Regions from separate parts of the Homo sapiens genome. Here region 2 is linked to region 1. The links come from fine-mapping of genetic effects on gene expression. A gene starts in region 1. The other region holds a variant in brackets. All regions are shown on one strand. Distances are from middle to middle.

Region 1 (10,943 bases):
ACCTGGAACATTCCAGACACAATGACAAAGACTCAGTGTGCCACAACCTACTTAATTTCTAAAAACACAACCCCAGGGAGATTATCGTCTCGGTGTTACAAAGGAGGAAACAGAGGGTCTGAGAGGTGAAGCCACTTACCTAACATCACCCCACACAGCGCTGGGGTTCTAGCTCTGGTTGGATCCCAGTGCCTTGGGGCTTATCCCCTACACACTTGCTGGACTACAAGCTCATGATGGCAGAGACTGGGGTTGTCATGGTTATGATTATGTCCCCAGCACATGGCCTGGCACACGACAGACGCTCCAGAAACATTCTTTGATGCTTGGACTGAAGAATGTTAGTTGGGATTTTTTTAATAGTAATTTTTTTTTTTTTTGAGACAGGATCTCACTCTGTTGCCCAGGCTGGAGTGCAGAGGTGTGATCTTGGCTCACTGCAACCTCTGCCTCCCAGGCTCAAGCAATCCTCCTGCTTTAGCCTCCCGAATAGCTGGAAAACAGGCATATACCACCACATCTAGCTAGTTCTTTTTTCCTTTTAGTAGAGATGAGGTCTCACTGTGTTGCCCAGGGTGGTCTCAAATTTCTGGGCTCAGGCAATCCTCCCACCTCAGCCTCCCAAAGTGCTGGGATTATAGGCATAAGCCACCACACCTGGCCCCTTAATCATAAACATAATATCTTCTCTCTCTGTTTTATGTTAGATCCGGGCCGGGCACAGTGGCTCATGCTTGTAATCCCAGCACTTTGGGAGGCTGAGGTGGGTGGATCACCTGAGGTCAGGAGCTCAGAACCAGCCTGGCCAACATAGTGAAACCCACTCTCTACTAAAAAAAAAAATTAGCCGGGCGTGGTGGCGTGCGCTTGTAGTCCCAGCTACTTGGGAGGCCGAGGCAGGAGAATCACTTGAACCCGGGAGGCTGAGGTTGCAGTGAACTGAGATCTCGCCACTGCACTTCAGCCTAGGCAACAGAGTGAAACTCCGCACTGCACGCCCTCCAAAAAAAAAAAAAAAGTTAGATCCAATGGTTTATCTGGGCTTTCTCGGATTTTTTTCACAATGGTCTCAGCTTATATGCCCCTTCCTCCAGGAAGCCCTCTCTGATACCCTGTGTCTGGCCAGTGACCTCCTTCTGGGCTCACACATCCTCCTGACCACTCTGAACTGTGACTGTCGGCTGATTGGTCTGTCTCTTTCATGGGCCTGGGAGCTCCATGAGTGTCTTGGTCACTGCTGTTTCCCCAGCAAAGCTAACATAGGACCAAATACATGGTAGGGGCTTAGGGAGTGATTTTTGTCTCATTAGAAGAATAGGATAGCACACCTGTAATCCCAGCACTTTGGGAGGCTGAGGCAGGAGGATCACTTGAGCCCAGGAGTTCAAGACCAGCCTGGGCAAGATAGCAAGACCCCATCCCTACCAAAAAAAGAAAAAGAAAGAGAACACAATTTTAAAAAAAGGACAGGATGGTGAGAAGGAAGGAAGGAGGAAAGGGAGAAAGGAAGCTGAGCCTTTACGGTCAGAGAGGATTTCAAAATTAAGGGAGAAGGAAGCACGGGTATGCTGGGCAGTGGGAACGGCTTGAGCAATGCGTGGAGGCAGGACAACAGAAGAGTGTTCAAGGAACAGTGTGTACTCAGGCCTAGTTACAGCAGAGGGGGTCAGGAGGAGGGAAGGAAGTCGATTCTGGGAAGGCGCCTGGAGACCGGAGGCTCCAAACGCAGCACTGAGCCCCTGACTGCTCTCAGAGAGGGCACCTGAGCAGACAAAGCTGGGCCATGGAGGCAGATTCTGGAAGGATGAGAAAAAAACTGGAGATAGGGAGGCCTGGGAGGGAGACAAGTTAGGAACAGATCTACACACTGGAGGGTTTAAACGATGGGTTTGAAACTCAGCCAGAACTGAGTTAGAATCCTGGCTCTGACTTGACGTGGCCAACCCTAAGCAAAGAATCTCTCACCTCTCTATGCCTCAGCTTCCCCATCTGTTGTTTTTGTTTTTTTTTTTTTGAGACCGAGTCTTGCTCTGTCACCCAGGCTGGAGTGCAGTGGTGCAATCTCGGCTCACTGCAACCTCCGCCTCCCACATTCAAGCGATTCTCCTGCCTCAGCCTCCCAAGTAGCTGGGATTACAGGTGCCCGCCATCACACGCCTGGCTAATTTTTGTATTTTAGTAGAGACAGGGTTTCATCATGTTGGCCAGGCTGGTCTTGAACTCCTGACCTTAGGTGATCCCCCTGCCTCGGCCTCCCAAAGTGCTGGGATTACAGGCTTGGGCCACTGAGCCTGGCCCCCATCTGTTGAATGGAGACAATCTCAGTGCTGTCATAAGGACTCAGAGTTAACACATACAAAGCCCTTAATTAAGATAGATGCTATTTTAAGATAAAAAATGACAGAAAAAAATTGACAAAAAAGACTAAAAAAAAAAAAGAAGAAAAAACTTAAAACAGTGTCTGGTGTACAGTAAGGATTAGAATTATTTGATCTGCATCTTGCAAGGTGATATCCTTGGACAAGTGACTTGAATTCTCTGTGCCTCAGTTTCCTCATCTGTAAAAGGGGATAATAATAGTATCTACCTCAGCCGGGTGCAGTGGCTCATGCTGGTAATTCCAGCACTTCGGGAGGCTGAGGCGGGTGGATCACTTGAGGTCAGGAGTCTTGAGGTCAGCCTGGCCAACATGATGAAACCCTGTCTCTACTCAAAATACAGAAATGAGCCAGGTGTGGTGGCGGGCACCTGGTGTCTCACCTACTCAGGAGGCTGAGGCAGGACAATCACTTGAACCCAGGAAGTGAAGGCTGCAGTGAGCCGAGATGGCACCACTGCACTCCAGCCTGGGCAACAGAGCGAGACTGTCTCAGAAAAAAAAAAAAAGTATCTACCTCATTAGGGTTGCTGCGAGGAGTGAGTGAGTTAATAAAAGCACAGCACTTAGCACAGGGCTAAACATGAGTGAGTGCTAATTGTTGTTGTTATTATTATTATTATTATTATTATTATTCACCCACTTCCAGCTCAGCTGTTCTGAGATGCCAAGGAAGTGAGAGGGCAGGCAGAGAGAAAAAAGCAATGGGGCCCAGGAGGGTCAGCCCCTGCACACAGGCACAGGCACGTCAAGGCAGGTCTGTCTCTCACAGCTAGGGCCACATGTGTGAACACGTCCCCAAGGAAGGCATGTGGGGTGAAGCGGGGCTCAGGGCAGACTCCAGCCAGGGGCCCCAGAGCAAAAAGAGGCCTCAGCAGGCAAGCTGGCAAGCTGATGGACTCCGGACTCGGCTCCCAGCCCCACGGCTCCCAGCCCCACGTGAGGCTCTCCAGTTTCACACCGGCCTCTGCTCTGTCCCGCCCTCCCTGAACCTGCCCGGCCGGTCCTCCTGATTCACCAGGGGAGAGCCACACCCAAGCTGGGGGTGACGGTGGACAAAGTAAACAAGAGTGTTCAGGGGGCTCCTTGGGGATGTAGGGGTCACAGGGGAGACCAGGTGGGCTCCCGGCTAGGCCAAGGATCCTTTGGCGTTTGGGGTCACACAGCCCTTTTGCGAATCTGATGCAAGCTGGGGGAATCGCTTTGCTCCCTAGAAAAATGTACATACAAATAGGCTAAGGGGTGGTGAAGGTTTGTGACCCTTTAAGACAGCCACAGGCCCCAGATTAAGAAATGTGGGGTAGAAAGTGCACCCTGCCTGTCTCCCTATCCCAGTGTTCTTCAGATTCCAGAGGATTAGACAGATGTCAGACCGTCGCTGCAACAATGTATGTGAACACGCACGGCAGGCTCCTTAGTCCTACAATTTCAGGGGTTCCTGGGCCCCATAAAGTCGGTCAGTGGCCCTCCATTGTAGACCCCCAGGAGTGGAGACAGTGCAGGAAGGGGAAAGGAGAGAATTAAGAAGGGGTGCCTGGAGTGAATTAGTAACCTGGCTGTCAGAGGGAGGAGGTCAGTGGATGGAAGAGGTTCCCGGAGATGAAATTGCTGGTGGGCAACTAACAGTAAATGGGTAGAGAACTTCCTAAGCAAAGGCGGAGGAATAAGGAGTTTTGCGTGATGTGGCTCAAGGGCAGGATGGGTCCCACTCACCCCAGACCTGTCCTCGGGATCGCTGGCACCTCCGCCCCCGGCCACCACGTCATCCTCAGACTCGTCGAAAGAAGAGGCAGAGGAGAAGCCGCCGCTGCCCCCCTCAACCCGGGAGGGGGGTCCCACTGGCTGGGCCTCAGGCTCAGGGGTCTCAGGGGTAATGATGAGGCGGGGCACAGGGCACAGGGGGCTACACTTCAGGTGAGAGTACAGGTGAGTCAGCAATTCTCCAGGCTCTGGTTCCTCTAATGGGCCATCCTCAGGCTCTCCCAAGAGGCAGTCTGTCCCAGGTGCTGTCTGGGAACCGTCAGTGCTAGGTTGTGTCCAGGAGCCATCAGTATCCTGTTGTATTTGGAAACCACCAGTGCCAGGCTGTTTCCTGGCTGCTTCAGTATCCTGTTTTTTCTGGGAGCCATCAGTATATGGCTCTGTCCAGGGACCTTCAATATCCTGTTGTGTCCTGGAGCCATCAGTATACAATTCTTTCCAGGAGCCATCAGCACTTGGCTCTTTTGAGGGACAGGCTCCTTCTGGGTGAGTCTGGAGGCTGGAACTGTTCTGGTGGGTCCAGAGGTTATCAGCCCAGGACTTGACCCTCTCTGGCTGAGTCTGTGACCCATGCGTTTCCAGCTCTGTCCAGGGCCCATGAACCCCTGGCTGTGTCCAGGGGCTGGCCTCCTCGGGCTGAAACTGGAGGTCGGACCTGTGCGGATCAGTCCAAAGGCCATCTGTCCCGGTCTCCGTCCAAAGACAAGTCGTCTCCAGCTCTGACCAGCTCCATTCTAGATGCGTCCGGAGGCTGGACCTGTCTGGCTCCGTCTTTTGCTTGGGCCTCTCGGTCTCTACTCCAAGGCCAGCTGCCGCGGGCTCAGTCTGTCCGTCTGTCCAGAATTCTGCCTGCGGACTCTCTGTCCCCGGCGCAGGCCCGAGGCCGGCCCTCTCAGGCTCGCTGTGGAGGCTGGACCCCTCTGTCCGGGCCCAGGGCCCGCCCCCCTCCGGCCGCCCCGCCGGGGCCCCTGCGCCGGGCCCAGGTCGCTGCTGTCCCGGCTGCCGCCGCCGCCCTCCTCGCGGCGCCTCCAGTCCCATGCGGGCCGCCGCGGGCAGCGCCCCGGCCTCCGCCTCGTTCAGGCTCCCACGGCACGGGCAGCGCCTCATGCCCGCTCCTTCGGTTCGGGCTTCGGCCGACCCGGCCCCTCCTATCCCTTTAAATCCCGCGAGGGGTGTGGCTGGGGAGCCCCGACTCCCGGGTTCCGGCCCGCGGAGCTCCAGCCCGCCCCGCCGCGCAAGGGTTAACCGATACTCCCCTCAAAGGGGAAAGCCCCGAAGCCCCGCCCCACCGGACGTGACGGAACGGAACGAGACGGAGCCTTGTCCGACTCCGCCTCCCAAGGGGAGGGGGTTTGCCTCTGAGCATCCGAAGCGCGGCCAGGTATGCATCTAGGGCACCGGGGTCCTGGTGGCGCGCCAGTGGGCCCCCTCCCTCCACCCCTGTGACTAAACCACCCTCCCTACACGGTTGAATGACAAGTTCAACCTTCCCTAAAACCCCCGGTGACGAGTCCAGCCGCGCGCCCATTCTTCACGCAGGGGCGGGACGGACTTTCAAAGACTTGGAGTTCCCACGGGTGTGGGTTCGAGACCTTCCTCTGCCAGTTCCCAGCTCCGCTACCCTGAGCAAATGACTTACGCTCCATTGGATTTTCCGTAAGAAATCTCTGTCATGTATAGAGTACTTGTTCTGTATCAGACCCTGACACGATTTCAGTTCATTCTCCAAGGCTGAACAATAGGGATGCCAGGGCTCCATTTTACACGTGAGAACAGAGGCTCAGAGATCTGCCGGCCTCTACCCTTTGCTTGCAGCTACGGGGCTATCTGACATGATCTCATGTATGTGAAGCATGTGGCCCCGGGCCTGGCACTGTCAGTTGTAGCCCAGTAGGATTATTTATTGTCCTAGGTGATTTTGATATATTTTGCCCCCAAGGCTGAGCTGCCACCCAGCTCCTGAGTCAGCCGTTCACCTCTGAAGGGGGAGAGGAGGTGGTTTGTCTTGAAATTGAGTCAACTGGGGGAGACATTGGGCACAGGTCCAAGGCTCTAAAATGAGTCACCTTTTCACAGACCAATGAGAGAAATCGAAGGCAGGAGCCCACCTAGTACCTCATACAGGTTGGGAAGGAGAAGTCCAGAGAGGGATGAGGGCTTTTCTGAGGTCACACAGTACGGGAATAGAGACAAAGAGGCCTGATTCCCGACAAGAGGGGTTGGGGCAGCGGGGTTCTGTGGGGGAAGCATCGGCATCCCTCCCTCTCCCAGTGGTGGGAAAGATGCCCCAACCAGATGCCTCTATTCCAGACTGTGAGAAGTGGGTGAGTCAGCCTGTTGTGGGGAGAGCAGGCTTTCCAACGCGCGCGCGCACACACACACACACACACACACACAGAGAAAGAAAGATAGGATGGGAGGTGGTTTTCTGGGATGCCAAGGTTCCTGACTCAGCACTGGGAATCTTGGCTGAGTGTGTTCTGGGAAATGTCAGGCCTACAGGAAGCAGAGGGCTCCCAGTCGCACCATTCCGCAGGTGGGCGGGGAGCGGAGAGAACAGGGTGTGTGAGGGAACAGAGACTCAGTGTGCAAGTGGGGGGGAGGGTATGTACACGAGAGAGTTGAAGGCGTGAGCGGGAAACAGTTGGCAAGCAAGGCAAGGGATTTATATGCACAAGGAAGGAGGTTGGGTGCCAGAATGTGGGTGTTTGTGCAAAGTGGAGGGGCTCCATGTGCAAGGGAAATGTTTGCTGGGAAGAATGTGTATTCAAAGGAATTGTGTTGAGCCTGCCAGGGGTAAAAATAAGAAGGGGGGTTGGCAAGATATTCGTGCAGAAGAGAGGCGTCAGGTTTGTAAGGGAGACTTTGCAAGAAAGTGTAGGGAACAGAAGGGTCTGTCGCGTACAAGGCACTTTGAGGTGAGTGGAAGGGCAGACAGGGCACGCTTGCGCTCCCGCGATGCCTCAGCAATCCCCCCAGATGGGCCCCCGATGCCCACCTTAATTCCAGGCTCCATCGCTAGGGCCTCTCTCTGGCCCCTTCCCCCGCGCACAGATGGAGAAACTCCGTGCCAGTCAGCGAGTTGCTGCCGCGCCATTGGTTGGCTGGCCGAAGGGGGCGGGCATACAGAGGCTCCCGGAAGCACAGGAGGGCCCCAGCAGGTTGCGGACTCGGAGGCTGAGAGCAGTGGGTGCTTAGCAACGGGGGGAGGTGCTCAGTAACGGGGTGGGGATCGGGCGGGGGGACACCGGAGGAATTGCGGGTGCCTACAGGGCCAACAGAGGGGAAGGCGGTGCATAGCAACGAGGGGGGTTTCAGAGAAGTGGAGAGGTAGCCCCTGAGGAACTGTGGGTGTCTAGTAACGGGGGCGGACCCTAGCAACGGCGAGGGTTGGGAGAGGGGGGAAAGTGGGTTTTGGGAGGCCTGCAGGAAGAGCTAAGGGTTCCTAGCAACCAGGGGAGAACCAGGAGAAACTGTGGGAATCTATTAATAGTGGAGGAAGTATTTAGTGGGTGGGAATGAGAGAGGGTGGACACAGAGGAACATGGGGGCCTGGCCAAGAAGCCAGGCAACTCCCACCTGAATAATCCCTCCTCTTCTCCTCCAGGCAATGTGGCTGAAGGTGGGGGGCCTACTTCGGGGGACCGGTGGACAGCTGGGCCAGACTGTTGGTTGGCCTTGTGGGGCCCTGGGGCCTGGGCCCCACCGCTGGGTAAGAGGCTAGGGAGCAGGTCCCCAAGGGGAAGAGGCTGAGGGAGACTTCAGAGGGTAAAAGGACAGGAGGGGTCCAGAAGGGCCAGGTGATCCCATGTCCTCCCCTCCTTATCAAAGTATATCTCTTGCAGGGACCATGTGGAGGTTCTTGGGCCCAAAAGTTTTACCAGGATGGGCCTGGGAGAGGCCTGGGTGAGGAGGACATTCGCAGGGCACGGGAGGCCCGTCCCAGGAAGACACCCCGGCCCCAGGTATCATTACCCCCACCCACCCAGCAACACCCCACGAATACTGCTGGCCCCCTGAGCTTGGGGAAGGGTGTGGTGGCAGAGTGGCTGCACTCTCTGGCCACGATGCCCACTTTCCCACCCTCAGACCTTGTCCCCATTTCCCAGCTGAGTGACCGCTCTCGAGAACGCAAGGTGCCTGCCTCCCGCATCAGCCGCTTGGCCAACTTTGGGGGTAGGTGTGACTTTGGGGGATCTTGGTGTGACCTCAATTAGAAAGGGCAACATTTACAGATTGAAGCAAGGGAGAGGATGAATCAGAGACAGGAAAGAGAGAGAGACAAAAAAAGAGAGACAAAGGCAAGGGCCTGCAAGGCCAAGAGAAATCAAGAGGAACATAAATGATAATTTTTTTTTTTTTTTTTGAGACAGAGTCTCACTTTGTCACCCAGGCTGGAGTGCAGTGGCGCGATCACTGCAGCCTCAAACTTCTGGGCTCAAGCAATTCTCTCGCCTCAGCCTCCTGAGTAGCTGGGACCACAGTTGTGCACCATCCGCCCGGGTAATTTTTTTTTTTTTTTCCTTTGAGACAGAGTCTCGCTCTGTTGCCCAGGCTGGAGTGCAGTGGCACCGTCTTGGCTCATTGCAACCTCTGCCTCCTACATTCAAGCAATTCTCCTGCCACAGCCTCCTGAGTAGCTGGGATTACAGGTGCCTGCCACTATGCCTGGCTATTTTTTTTTTTTTTTTTTTGAGACGGAGTATCCCTCTGTCACCCAGGCTGGAGTGCAGTGGCGCCATCTTGGCTCACTGCAACCTCCACCTCCCGGGTTCAAGCCGATTCTCCTGCCTCACACTCCCAAGTAGCTGGGATTACAGGCATGCATCCACCACACCCGGCTAATTTTTGTATTTTTAGTAGAGACGGGGTTTCACCATGTTTGTCAGGCAGTGGTAGAGCTTTGGCACCAGGCTGCCCAGGGTTCAAGGGATGACTCTGCTATGTCCTCGCTTTGTGATCCGCCTGCCTCAGCCTTCCCAAGTGCTGGGATTACAGGCGTGAGCCACCACACCTGGCCGCCTGGCTAATTTTTGTACTTTTAGTAGAGACAGAATTTCACCATGTTGGCCAGGCTGGTCTTGAACTCCTGACCTCAAGTGATCCACCCACTTCGGCCTCCCAAAGTGTTGGGATTTACAGATGTGAGCCACGGTGCCCGGGAAGCCACTGTGCCTGGCCTGGGTAATTTAAAAAATATTTTTTTGTAGAGATAGGGTCTCCCTATGTTGCTCAAGTTGGTCTCAAGCGATCCTCCTGCCTCGGCCTCCCGAAGTGCTGGGGTTCTAGGCATGAGCCACTGCTCCTGGCCATAATAACATTTACTGAGAACCTGTAATGTGCAGTGTCCCATATACACACATGCTGCACTGAATCAATGAGTGTTCTATTCCGTACATGAGGACATTGAGGCTAACAAAGGGGAGGTCACTTGACTTTGGGTTACACAGCCGGATGTCGTGCAAGTCACATGAAATAATTTAGTGGGTTGCAACCAGCATTTAAAAAGAAGAATAGGACAGAAAATATGCATGCACCTGTAGAGCAAGGGAAAGTCTTGTTTCGTGAAACATATACCTTGGTCTGCACTGGTTATAACGTAAATGTCTTCTTATTGCTGATCATGGTTCAAGTTTTGTTTTTGTTTTTGTTTTTGAGATGGAGTCTTGCTCTGTCACCCAGACTGGAGTGCAGTGGCATGATCTCAGCTCACTGCAACCTCCACCTCCCAGGTTCAAGCAATTCTCCTGCCTCAGCCTCCTGAGTAGCGGGGGTTACAGATGCACGCCACCACGTCCAACTATTTTTTGTTGTTTTTTTTTTTTTTTTTCTTAGGGAGACAGGGTTTCACCATGTTGGCCAGGATGGTCTCGATCTCCTGACCTCATGATCCGCCTGCCTTGGCCTCCTAAAGTGCCAGGATTACAGACGTGAGCCACTGTGCCTGACCGCTAATTTCTGTATTTTTAGTAGAGATGGGGTTTCACCATGTTGGTCAAGCTGATCTCGAACTCCTCACCTCGTGATCCACCTGCCTCAGCCTCCCAAAGTGCTGGGATTATAGGCGTGAGCTACCATGCCCCGCCTGGTTCAAGTTTTAAAAATATAGATTCACTTGCTTGTACCCAGGAGGTAGAGATTGCAGTGAACCAAGATCGCACCATTGCACTCCAGCCTGGGCAGCAAGAGTGAAACTCTGTCTCAAAAAAAAAAAATCTATATATATATACATAGATAGATTCACAGTCTGCAGAGGCAGTCAAAGGCACTGGTTAGAGCTTTGGCACCAGGCTGCCCAGGGATTAAGGGATGACTCTGCTGTGTCCTCGCTTTGTGACGTGACTCTGGGCAAATTACTTCACTTCTCTGAACCTCAATTTCCTTTTCTGTAAAATGGAAGTTTTCTGTAAAATACATTTTATGAAGGTGGAGACCTCATGTAAGGACAAAAATTAGTAAGTGCACAGAAGGCACTGGGAACAGCCCCTGACATGTAGAAAGGACACAGAAAATGCCAGATATGGTAATTGACAGAGATGGTGACAACAAAAGAAGGAGAGAGACCCGAGACGTCTTTAGGGACAAGAGGAGAGGTAGCAGAGGAAATCAGAGATGGAGAGATAACATCAAAGGGAGGAAAAGAGAGAAAGAGATCTAGATAGATAGGACAAATGGGGAGAAGGCAAGAGATGCAGAAATAACTGGCTTAGAAAGGGAGAGGTCAAGCCTGGTAGCCCACACCTGTAATCCCAGCACTTTGGGAGGCCGAGGCAGGAGGATCACGTGAGTTCTGGAGTTCCAGACC
Region 2 (10,943 bases), 24 kb before region 1:
GCTATTCGGGAGGCTGAGGCAGGAGAATGGCGTGAACCCGGGAGGCAGAGCTTGCAGTGAGCCAAGATCGGGCCACTGCACTCCAGCTGTCTCAAAAAAAAACAAAAACAAAAACAAAAACTTAGCCAGGCATGGTGGCGCATGCCTATAATCCCAGCTACTCAGGAGGCTGAGGCAGGAGAATCGCTTGAACCCAGGAGGCGGAGGTTGTGGTGAGCCAAGATCGCACCATTGCACTCCAGCCGGAGCAACAAGAGGGAAACTCTGTCCCAAAAAACAAACAAACAAACAAACAAAAAGGAATGAATCCCTCAGGGCCAGACTATCTGAGTGGCCTCCCCCAGGGTACAAAGATTCACTATCAAGGTGATGTTTTAGGCCTTAAGCATGTTGTTACCTGGTTTTATTCAAAGTTCAGTTAAGGGATTTTCATTGTTGAACAGCCCAGGAAACAGACTTGAAGCGAAAAACAAATCACAGAGTTTGGAGCCTGGGCAACATATAGCATGATCTCATCTCTACTAAAAATAAAAAGAGTCGGGCACGGTGGCTCACGCCTATAATCCCCAGCACTTTGGGAGGCCAAGGTGGGTGGATAACCTGAGGTCAGGAATTCGAGACCAGCCTGGCCAACATGGTGAAACCCCGTTTCTACTAAAAATACAAAATTAGCTGGGCGTGGTGGCGCATGCCTGTAATCCCAGCTACTCGGGAGGCTGAGGCAGGAGACCCACTTGAACCCGGGAGGTAGGGGTTGCAGTGAGCTGAGATCGCGCTGTTGCACTCCAGTATGGGCAAAACGAGCAAAACTCTGTCTCAAAATAAAATAAAATAAAAAGAACTAGCTGGACATGGTGGTGCATGCCTATACTCCCAGCTACTCAGGAAGCCGAGGCAGGAGGAATAACTTGACCCTGGGAGGTCGAGGCTGCAGTGAGCTTTGATTGCATCATTGCATTCCATCCTGGGCAACAGAGCAAGAAAAAGAGTTGGAGATAGAGATACCACTTTGAGAAATTTCCTCAGATAAACCTGGTTGCAAAGTGCCACCCTTTGCTCCTCACCCTTCAATAACTGAGAGAGCGAGCAGGGAGCAGGCAGGCAGAAGGACCATTCCCACAAACCAGATGAGGAAACTGAAGCTTGGGGAGGGGAAGTCAGTGACTGAACCAGGAGCCGCCTTCAGCCTTAGGACAGCCAGGCCCATATTCCCTTCATCATCCCTGGATACGACCACTCCCAGCCAGACCTCAGGGTAGGGGGTGCTTCAGAGCTGGCTCCCTGGTGACTGAGCACGGCTCTGCTTCAGGTTCCGAGGTGACCTGCGGTGGATCCTCTTCTGTGCAGACCTGCCGTCCCTCATCCAAGAAGGCCCTCAGTATGTGCCCTGATGCGGGAACCCCAGCCCATCTGCTGCCTTTACTCTGCCCTTGCTGGGCTTCTTAAGGACTGATCTGGAGAAGAGGAGTGGATTGTCCCTGCTGGGAGGAGGAGGGAAGGAAAGGGGGAACTTTCCACTCAGGCTTCTGAGTGCCTGCATAGTAAACATAGTTGGGACATGCGAGGAATGAACGAATGAGCCTGGTCCATCTCTCTAACTCCACCTTGGTTCCTCCTCCCAGGAAGCTCAGGTGACCTCTCCCCCGCCTTCCACCCCCAGCCCTCCAGCCCTGGGCTCTCCCCTGAAGGGGAGTCAGGTCTCCCTCGCTGGCCTGGGAGAGGGGAGGGGGACTCCTCCAGGGCAGCAAACCTGTTCCCCAACTCCAGCTTCCAGGTAAGGGGGCTGTGACATAGGATTGACAGGCTGGGCCTCTCTGTCCCCAGATGCGGGCTGGTGGCCTTGTGGATGGCAGGTACTCTCCTGTCGCCCCCCAGTGGCGTCCCCCTGGAGAGACTCATACGGGTGGCCACGGAAAGAGGCTACACGGCCCAGGGAGAGATGTTCTCAGGTGAGCTGGGTGACTGCATGCTCCATCATCTCTTCATGAGGCTGGGACCAGAGAGGCTGGGTGGGATGCTGGCAGCCGTGTGTCAGGGTGTCTCATTCCATTCTTTGGGCCCTTCCCACTGCCCAGTAGAGCAGAGAGGTTACAAGATGGACTTGAGCTGGCTGCCTAGGTTGCAAACCCAGCTCTGCCACCTCTTCGCTGGGGCCATGGACAAGCCACTCACGCTCTTTGTGCCTCATTTTCTGCATTTGTACCAAGGGGTGGAAGGTCATGGTGAGGGTTGGAAGCATCGCCCACTGTGAGCCCTCAGCACGGTGCTGGGCACATGCAGCAAGCCCCCTCTGTGTGCTCTCACCCTGCAGTGGCCGATATGGGCAGGCTGGCCCAGGAGGTGCTGGGCTGCCAGGCCAAGCTGCTCTCTGGTGGCCTGGGCGGTCCCAACAGAGACCTCGTCCTGCAGCACCTGGTCACTGGACATCCCCTGCTCATCCCGTATCCCAGGGCCTGGGAGAGAGGAGGGCAGGGGTGGCAAAGGGTGGGTCCCAGGGCCACACCATCGTTTTTACCTTAATGCCAGCACCAGCTACGACGAGGACTTCAACCATGAGCCGTGTCAGAGGAAGGGCCACAAGGCACACTGGGCGGTGAGTGCAGGTGGGTTCCCCCTCCTTTGTCTGCACCCCTCAACCTGGGTCTCCCCGGCCTCCATTAATCCTCCTGACATTCTCACCCCTTGTGCTGGTGCCTCCCCAGCCAGGCTGGGCACTTAGCATTAGCACCGGGCAGGCTGGGCCCCAGGTGTCTGCCAGTTGGAGCTTCTACAAACAGAAGCTCAGAGCACAGATTTCAGGATCAGACCGTCTGGGCTCCAGGCCTGGCACAGCCTCTTCTAGGCTCTGTGACTCTGGGCAGGTATCATCACCTCTCTGGACAGCTCCTTTCCCCATCTGGAAATTGGGGGTAACAGTACCCACCTCATAAGGCTGCCTTGTAGGCAGAGCACTCAGCACTCTTAGAACAAGGCTTGGCCAGGCGCGGTGGCTCACGCCTGTAATCCCAGCACTTCGGGAGGCCAAGGTGGGTGGATCGCTTGAGGTCAGGAGTTTGAGACCAGCCTGGCCAACATGGTGATACCCTGTCTCTACTAAAAATACAAAAATTAGCCAGGCGTGGTGGTGTATGCCTGAAATCCTAGCTACTTGGGAGGCTGAAGCAGGAAAATTGCTTGGACCTGGGAGGCGGAGGTTGCAGTGAGCTGAGATCGTGCCACTGCACTCCAACCTGGGTGACAGAGCAAGACTCCATCTCAAAAAAAAAAAAAAAATAGAACAGGGCTTGGCGTGTGACATGTCTCTGTAAGTATTACCAGCACCGTTTTCATCATTCCCCCTGCCTGAAAGAAAGAAGGCCAGGTTGGTCCGCGTCAGGAGGTCCGGGGGAGGCTCCGCTCAGCTTCTTCATGGCTTTGTGGTCTTGACAGCTCCTCTTGGAGCCTCTTCCCTAAAGAGCTGAGGATGACCGGGTGACGGCATTTGCTTCATCTCATGCTGCCTCCCCACCTCCCCTGTGCTCAGGCCAGATGAGGCAAGACTTAAAACACCTACAGCTTTGGAGCCGGGTGCCACGGTGGGTCCAAATCCCAACCCACTGGCCACCACTAACGTCACCGTAACCTAGGAATGGCAGCTGCACCCACCCTGGAGGGCCGGGAGAGGGCGGAACTTAGTGAGCCCCAGCACCTGGTCCTGGCTCAGTCACTGCCACTCACCACCTTCTCCTCTCCCCCAGGGGTCCTGCTGGGTGTTCGGGCTGTGCCCAGTCTCGGCTACACTGAGGACCCTGAGCTGCCGGGCCTGTTCCACCCAGTGCTGGGCACGCCCTGCCAACCACCATCCCTGCCAGAGGAGGGCTCCCCGGGAGCTGTCTACCTGCTGTCCAAGCAGGGCAAGAGTTGGCACTATCAGCTGTGGGACTACGACCAGGTCCGGGAGAGCAACCTGCAGCTGACGGACTTCTCGCCCTCACGGGCCACTGACGGCCGGGTGTACGTGGTGCCCGTGGGTGGGGTACGGGCTGGCCTCTGTGGCCAGGCCCTGCTCCTCACACCACAGGACTGCAGCCATTAGCTGCGGCTGCGGTCTCAGGCTGCAGCCTAGCTCGGTAACCATTTGAAGTGTGCCTACACTTCTCCCACTGTGTGATGGCGACAAGATTGAAGCTAGGTCTCAGGGGTCTCCAGTCCTCCTTCATCAGGGCCACCCCCTGCAGTATTGAGCACCAGCTGGTCCCTCTAGGGAGAGATTGACAACAGCCCGGACCCTGCGGCCTGCCTATTCCATCTGAATGTCGCATCGTCTGTTTCTCACTAGGGGCCGCCTCTGTCATCTCACTAGACATTTGAGGAACCTCCTGCCTGGGCCCTCTGCTTCTCACAGGACAGGGACACTGAACTGC[G/A]TCAGCCTCAGCTCACCCCTCCTTAGCCCAAGGTCTTCCTCATGCTTGCCACCTACTAGTCATACTGGCCTTTTAGATCCCTGAAGTGTTGTTCAAATCCCCGGATCATTGAGTCCCACCCCCAGCCCTCTGCTGCGGATCACTCCTTAACTTTTCCATTGGGGCTCAGGTATCACTACCTCAGGGAAGAGTCCTGCAGCCCCAGTCAAGACACCCCTCCCCCACCTCATGTCTTCACAGTTTTAAAGCCCATCTGGGAGCAGTTACCTGTGCCAGCCCCTCTACCTGTGTTAGCAGATCTGGCAACCCTGTAAGGGGGGTGCTAGATGGACCCGATTTGACAGATGGCAAGACTGAGGCCTGGAGAAGTGGAATCACTGGCCTGAGGTCACATGACTAGCACATGGCAAGGTCAGGATTCAAGCTAGGTAGTCAGTATCTCAGCCAGGCTGTCTCCTGGCTCCCTGAACATTATGGTGCTGACCACAAACTTTCCTGTCCACTTATACAAACTTCTAGTGAGTGTGTGTGATTACTAGCTTCATGAATACCTGACCCCTCCACTCTGAAGGAGGAACAGGCCTGTCTGGATCACTTCTCTGTCCCTAACTGAGCCCATCTCATTTAGGGAAACTACAGAGCACTGTTGCTTTTTTTTTTTTTAGATGGAGTCTCGTTCTGTCGTCCAGGCTGGAGTGCGGTGGCGTGATCTCAGCTCACTCCAGCCTCCACTTCCCAGGTTCAAGTGATTCTCCTGCCTCAGCCCCCCAAGTAACTGGGATTACAGGCATGCACCACCATGCCTGGCTAATTTTTTGTATTTTTAGTAGAGACGGGGCTTTGCCATGTTGGCCAGGCTGGTCTCGAACTCCTGACCTTGAGTAATCCACCCGCCTCGGCCTCCCAAAGTGCTGGGATTACAGGTGTGAGCCACTGAGCCCGGCCACAGTGCAGTATTTCTAACCAGTGATCAGGGTAAAGAGGATGCGTGTCCACCATCCCAGCCCTGATCAGCCTGTCTGTGCATCCCCCATCCCAGCCAGGGCTTGGAGCAGCCTTGCTCACCACTGTGTCCCCTGCATTGTAACACATCCAGGCACAAGAATAGCCGCCCAGTGACTGCCAAGTGAGTGAACCAGCCTGCTTGGAGCCTGCCTCTTTCCCAAACTGCTCATTATCCTGTTACCCCACCCAGCCCACGTGTCCAAATACACTCCAGATGCAAAATAAAAAGCTCTACGACATTGGCTCTGAATGTTCTGTTTATTGGGGTGTTGTCATGGGTAGGAGGCTCAGCAGAGCCATTCTGCCTCCTGCTTCCCAGTACTACCCCGTCCAGCAACTGCCTCTCGTATAAATAAGTATCAAGATGGTCAGTAGAAAAGGAGAGCATCTCCTCAGCCCTGGAAGACAGTGTGGGAGCTTCAGCTTAAGGAAGAGGTAGGTGCCTGTCCGCCAGCCCAGCCTCAAGGGCCAGGAAGACCTGGCTATGGGTGCTGGAGGGGCCGTTAGCCACACCCCAGGGTTCTACAGTCTTTGGTTTGGATCAGGCTGCAGGCCAGGGTCCTGGCTGGCAGCCCCACCCACCCTGCGCCTCTGACACACACCCAGCGCTTTTCCCTGCAGGGGCCCGGGATTGGATGGGGCCCTCCTGAGTGCAGCAGCTCTGAGTTGCAAGGGGAGGCCCACTTTCCCAGCCTCTGAACCTCCTTTCTGCCACTGCAGTTTGCTGGGAGAAAGGAGAGAGAAGCCTGGGGGTCAGGCAGGAGGTGTAAGTCCTGAGGCCGGATCTGGTGCACAGAGGAGCGAGGTACTGTCACAGTGCTGGCACAGAAGCTGGGATGTGGCTGTGGTTTGGGTCTGCAGGAGGTCAGCAGAGTCCGCCGAGGAACACGGAGGATCCCACAGGGCCACAGCAGGGCAGGATACCGCCCAGCGGTATCAGCCCTCAGGCCGCATCCAGTCCCATGGGGTCATGCCCTCTGAGCCTCTTGTCGCTCAGCACTCAAATGGCTCCCTGGTGAAGACATGGACTGTCACTCTCCCCAGATGGTCCAGCAGCGCCTGCATCTGTTCACCAATGATGCTGACCCTCTGAGGCGCCACAGATGAGCCTGACCCAGTCCCTGGCCTCAGCCAGCTGGCAGCCTGGAGGCTGACAGGGAGGCAGGTTAGAAGTGATTCATGTGTCCACAGGCACCCTGTCACACCATACCCTGTGACATGTGAACTGAATGCTCTCAGGGCAGCCCCTCAGAAGCCTTCCCGGCAGATCCGGGGACCCCGTTCTGGTTTTTCTGACTCACTGCCTCATCACCTTCCTTCCAGGTCCCCAAAACCCCTGCATCATGATGGGGCCAGGTGCTACCTGGTCTCCCAAGGCCCTTCAGACTTTTCCACGTTGGTCTCGTGTGGCACATGACACAATCTCTCCCGTCCCTGGAGGCCAGCTCCCCCGTGGCCAACCTCAGGCCTCCCATGGCATCTCAGGGCTCCTCCAGCCAGACTGGCGCCATCCAATTAACCTGATGGTGGCTGAGCAGCTCAGCTCTGTGCCAGCCCCTGCAGGAGGCAGATCATGTTGTCCAGGCCCCAGAGGTAGCCGTCCTCACGGTTGCCCTCAGCCCAGGGCAGCCTGTGGCTGAGCGTCTGGTGGTCGGGCAAGGCCACCGTCTTGCCGAAGTCTATCATCCAGACCTTGGCCAGGCCGGTGTGGTCGTGCACGAAGAGGAGGGAGCTGCCTACCACCTGCCGGGGTAGAGACGGGAGGTTAAGGGAGGAGCAGGCACTGGCCAAGGTCCCTTCCTGACAGGCAGCAGAGCAGGGTGATTGACAGCATGAACCCTGGAGCCTGGCTGCCTGATTCATATCCTGGCTGTGCCACCTCCTGTCTGTGCAGCCTTAGGCAGGTGTCTTAACCTCTCTGTGGTTCTGCGTCCTCATATACAAAGTGAGAGTAATACAGTTAGTCTCCCCAGTCCGTGGTTTCATTTTCTTTGGTTTTAGTTACTCTCAGTCAAGTGCGATCCAAAAATATTAAGTGGAAAATTCCAGAAACAAACAATGTGTAAGTTTTAAGTTGCACATTGGTTTAACTACTGTGATGAAATCTCGTGCCATCCCGCTTCGTCCCACCTGGGATGCGAATCATCCCTTTGTTCAGCAAGTCTATGCTGTATCCGCAACCCACCCACTAGTCACCTAGGAGCCATCTTGGTTATCAGATCGAGAAAACACAGTCTATAGTTCAGTACTATCCACAGTTTCCGGCATCCACTGGGGGTTTGGAGGAGATCACCTGAGGATAAGGGGTCGACTGTAGGATCATTTACCTCAGAGGCTGCTGGGCATATTATATGTAGGAATTAATCTACATTAAGTGCTTAAGACAGTGCTTGGTACATAGCAAATACACAGCAAATGTTCAGTGTGAGGCATAATCAAAATGCACTGCAGCCTTGACCTCCTGGACTCAAGCCCTCTTCCTGCCTCAGCCTCCTGAGTAGCTGAGACTACAGGTGTGCACCACCATGCCTAGCTTTGCTTTTTTTTTGAGACAGAGTCTCACTCTGTTGCCCAGGCTGGAGTGCAGTGACACAATCTCAGCTCACTGCAACCTCTGCCTACTGGGTTCAAGCAATTTCTGGCTAATTTTGTTGTTGTTGTTGTTGTTGTTGAGACAGAGTCTCACTCTGTTGCCCAGGCTGGAGTGCAGCGGCACAATCTCGGCTCACTGCAAGCTCCACCTCCCGGGTTCATGCCATTCTCCTGCCTCAGCCTCCCAAGTAGCTGGGACTACAGGCGCCCGCCACCACGCCCGGCTAATTTTTTGTATTTTTTAGTAGAGACGGGGTTTCACTGTGTTAGCCAGGATGGTCTCGATCTCCTGACCTCGTGATCTGCTCACCTCGGCCTCCCAAAGTGCTGGGATTACAGGCATGAGCCACCGCACCCAGCCAATTTTTGTATTTTTAATAGAGACGGGGTTTCGCCATGTTGGCCAGGCTGGCCTCAAACTCCCGACCTCAAGTGATCCGCCCGCCTCAGCCTCCCAAAGTGCTGGGATTACAGGCATGAGCCACTGCACCCGGCCTTTTTTTTTTTTTTTTTTTCCAAATAGAGACGGGGTCTTGCTGTGCTTCCCAGGCTGGTCTTGGCACTCCTGGGCTCCAGCAATCCTCCCACCTCAGCCTCCCAAAGTGCTGGTATTACAGGTGCGGGCCACAACGCCCAGCCCCTTTTTATATCTTTGACCTGTAACTCATCAATGGTTTCCCCTCCATGCACCTGGACCCCGACACCCATACATCCACCCATGGAAGCCAGGGCTCGCACCTCGTGGGTCTTGAAGAAGGGGGAGATCTCCAGAGCTTCACGAAGTTCTTCTAGGCATGCCACGTACTTTTGCTGTGTGACAGGGAGCGTTCTTTGGTTAGCATGGGGACTTTGTGGGGCCTTGCCCACCTTGAGCTCTGACCTCACCCCATTCCCCCAAAGGAGCAGGCAGGCTCTAGCCAGGATGGAATAGGGGAGCCATGGGGAAGACAGGGCAGAGGAGTGAGGGCTTGGATTCATCAAGGTGGCATGGAGAAGAGTGGTGGATTCCATGAATTTCCACTCCCATCCGGAGGCGGAGTCTGTCTCCAGACCCCTCGATCCAGGCTGGGTCACATGACTTGCCGAACGGCAGAAATGATGGTGGCCATTCTGAGCCCAGGCATCAAGAGGCCTTGCATTTTTACTTGTTCTCTTGGCCCCCTGCCTCCACTGTGAGAGCAAGCCCAGGCCATCCTGCTATCGAGAGACGTGCGGCCAAGTCATGAGCCAACCGGCAGAGCTGGGAGCAGGGCCCCCTGGACCAGCCAGCCTTGCCAAGCCACCAGCTGACCTCAGACTGAGCAAAGCCAGCCAGTATCAGTCCAGCCCCACCCAAAGCAGAAGACCACTGACTCTGGAGCAAGAATAAATGGTGGCTGTCTTAAGCTGCTACATTCTGGGACATGGGTGTCCCACTCACCAGGATGACGTGGTCTCCATCCACGAAGTCCTCCAGCACTTTTGTCACCTGCTCCAGTGCCTGCGTCTTCTTGAAGTTGGTGTTACAGGTCCCATCTGCCTTCTGTAGGGCAGGGTGTGGAGGGGCAGGGTCATGGGCTTTTCCTTCCCGCACCCAATACCCAGCAACCTCAAATACCTCCCAGGAGGCCGGGCGCGGTGGCCAAGACCAGCCTGGGCAACACAGCAAGACCCCATCTCTATTTAAAAAAAAAAAAAATTCTGGTGTGGTAGTATGCACCTGTGGTCCCAGGTGTGGGATCATGCCTATAATCCCAGTGCTTTGGGAGGCCGAGGCGGGAGGATCACTTGAGGTCAGGAGTTCACAACCAGCCTGGCCAACACGGTGAAACCCCGTTTCTACTAAAAATACAAAAAATTAGCCAAGTGTGGTGGCGGGCGCCTGTAATCCCAGCTACTCGGGAGGCTGAGGCAGGAAAATCGCTTAAACCCGGGAGGCAGAGGTTGCAGTGAGCATTGATTGCACCACTACATTCGAGCCTGGGTGACAGAACAAGACTCTGTCTCAAAAAAAACAACTTCCCAGGGCCACCCACCTGCCTGCACACTTGCTGCCAGAGGAGGAAGCCAGCTTACCTGCCCAGCCCAGCTCAACCCAGCCCCAGGTCACATGCCTGAGCCCCAGTCCTTCCACACCCTTCCAACCTTGAACCTCCTGGTTGAACCCATCTAGGAAAGTGGGCTTTGGAGCAGGGTGGAGCTGGCTGTGAATCGTGACTCTGCTCTTTTCTTTTTTTTTTTGACAGAGTCTCACTCTGTCACCCAGGCTGGAGTGCAGTGGTGCAACCTGGGCTCACTGCAAGCTCCGCCCCCTGGGTTCATGCCATTCTCCTGCCTCAGCCTCCTGATAGCTGGGACTACAGGCTCCCGCCACCACGCCTGGCTAATTTTTTGTATTTTTAGTAGCAACGGGGTTTCACCATGTTAGCCAGGATGGTCTCGATCTCCTGACCTCATGCTCCGCCCGCCTTGGCCTCCCAAAGTGCTAGGATTACTGGCGTGAGCCACTGCACCTGGCCATCTCTGCTCTTTTCTAGCTGGGCAGTCTTAAGTCATTTCAGCTGCCTCAGCCTCAGTTTCCTCATCTGGAAAACGGGAATTGTGTTGGTGTCTACTTGCTAAGGCTGGTGTAAGGATTAGAGGAAACCAGGTGTGTAGGATGCACAGCACAGTGCCTGGCATATAGTTATTTGAGACTAATGAGACTAATGTTATCTGTTATGTTTCAGTAGGGCTCAGAGAACCCACCTAAGTCATCTGCCACACTGTGCCAGGTGCTATGTGGGCACTTGGCAATAGGGAGTAACACGACAGACACAGTCAGATGAGGGGGCAGACACTGATTAAGATGATCAGAAAGGAAGATAAGAATAATGAAAGAGTATAAGGAGCTATGAGGAGGTGAAGAGGGGACCCTGATCAGTAGAACAGAAATCAGGGAGGGCTTCCCTGAGGAAGCAAAAT

Which allele goes with the higher level. Positions count from the first base shown, and alleles are read on the strand shown. Sizes are in standard deviations (SD) of each study's normalised expression.
As copies of A replace G in region 2, the expression in lymphoblastoid cells of the gene that starts at base 5,269 in region 1 goes down (moderate effect, 0.68 SD a copy in GEUVADIS).

What was found.
Region 2: its variant is fine-mapped to the expression of ITPKC in lymphoblastoid cells (GEUVADIS, PIP 0.90).

Annotation. Positions count from the first base shown.
Region 1 is chr19:40,711,438-40,722,380 of GRCh38, reverse strand. ITPKC (inositol-trisphosphate 3-kinase C) reads right to left here and starts at 5,269. Exons shown (of 7, transcript NM_025194.3): 1 at 4,091-5,269. The coding sequence starts at 5,245. It overlaps COQ8B (coenzyme Q8B), which reads left to right and starts at 5,495. Exons shown (of 15, transcript NM_024876.4): 1 at 5,495-5,794; 2 at 7,746-7,850; 3 at 7,984-8,103; 4 at 8,248-8,314. The coding sequence starts at 7,749. RefSeq lists enhancers at 2,744-3,445, 5,949-6,028 and silencers at 5,019-5,378, 6,699-6,748.
Region 2 is chr19:40,735,565-40,746,507 of GRCh38, reverse strand. ITPKC (inositol-trisphosphate 3-kinase C) reads right to left here. Exons shown (of 7, transcript NM_025194.3): 5 at 9,421-9,522; 6 at 8,739-8,810; 7 at 5,648-7,151. The coding sequence ends at 6,948. It overlaps ACTMAP (actin maturation protease), which reads left to right. Exons shown (of 6, transcript NM_198476.5): 2 at 1,310-1,378; 3 at 1,825-1,949; 4 at 2,312-2,441; 5 at 2,533-2,603; 6 at 3,738-5,647. The coding sequence ends at 4,075. Among named protein-coding and RNA genes, the nearest start is that of ACTMAP, 9.4 kb to the left of the region's middle. RefSeq lists enhancers at 534-1,499, 1,500-2,466. The variant G/A (reference allele first, on the strand shown) is at 4,404.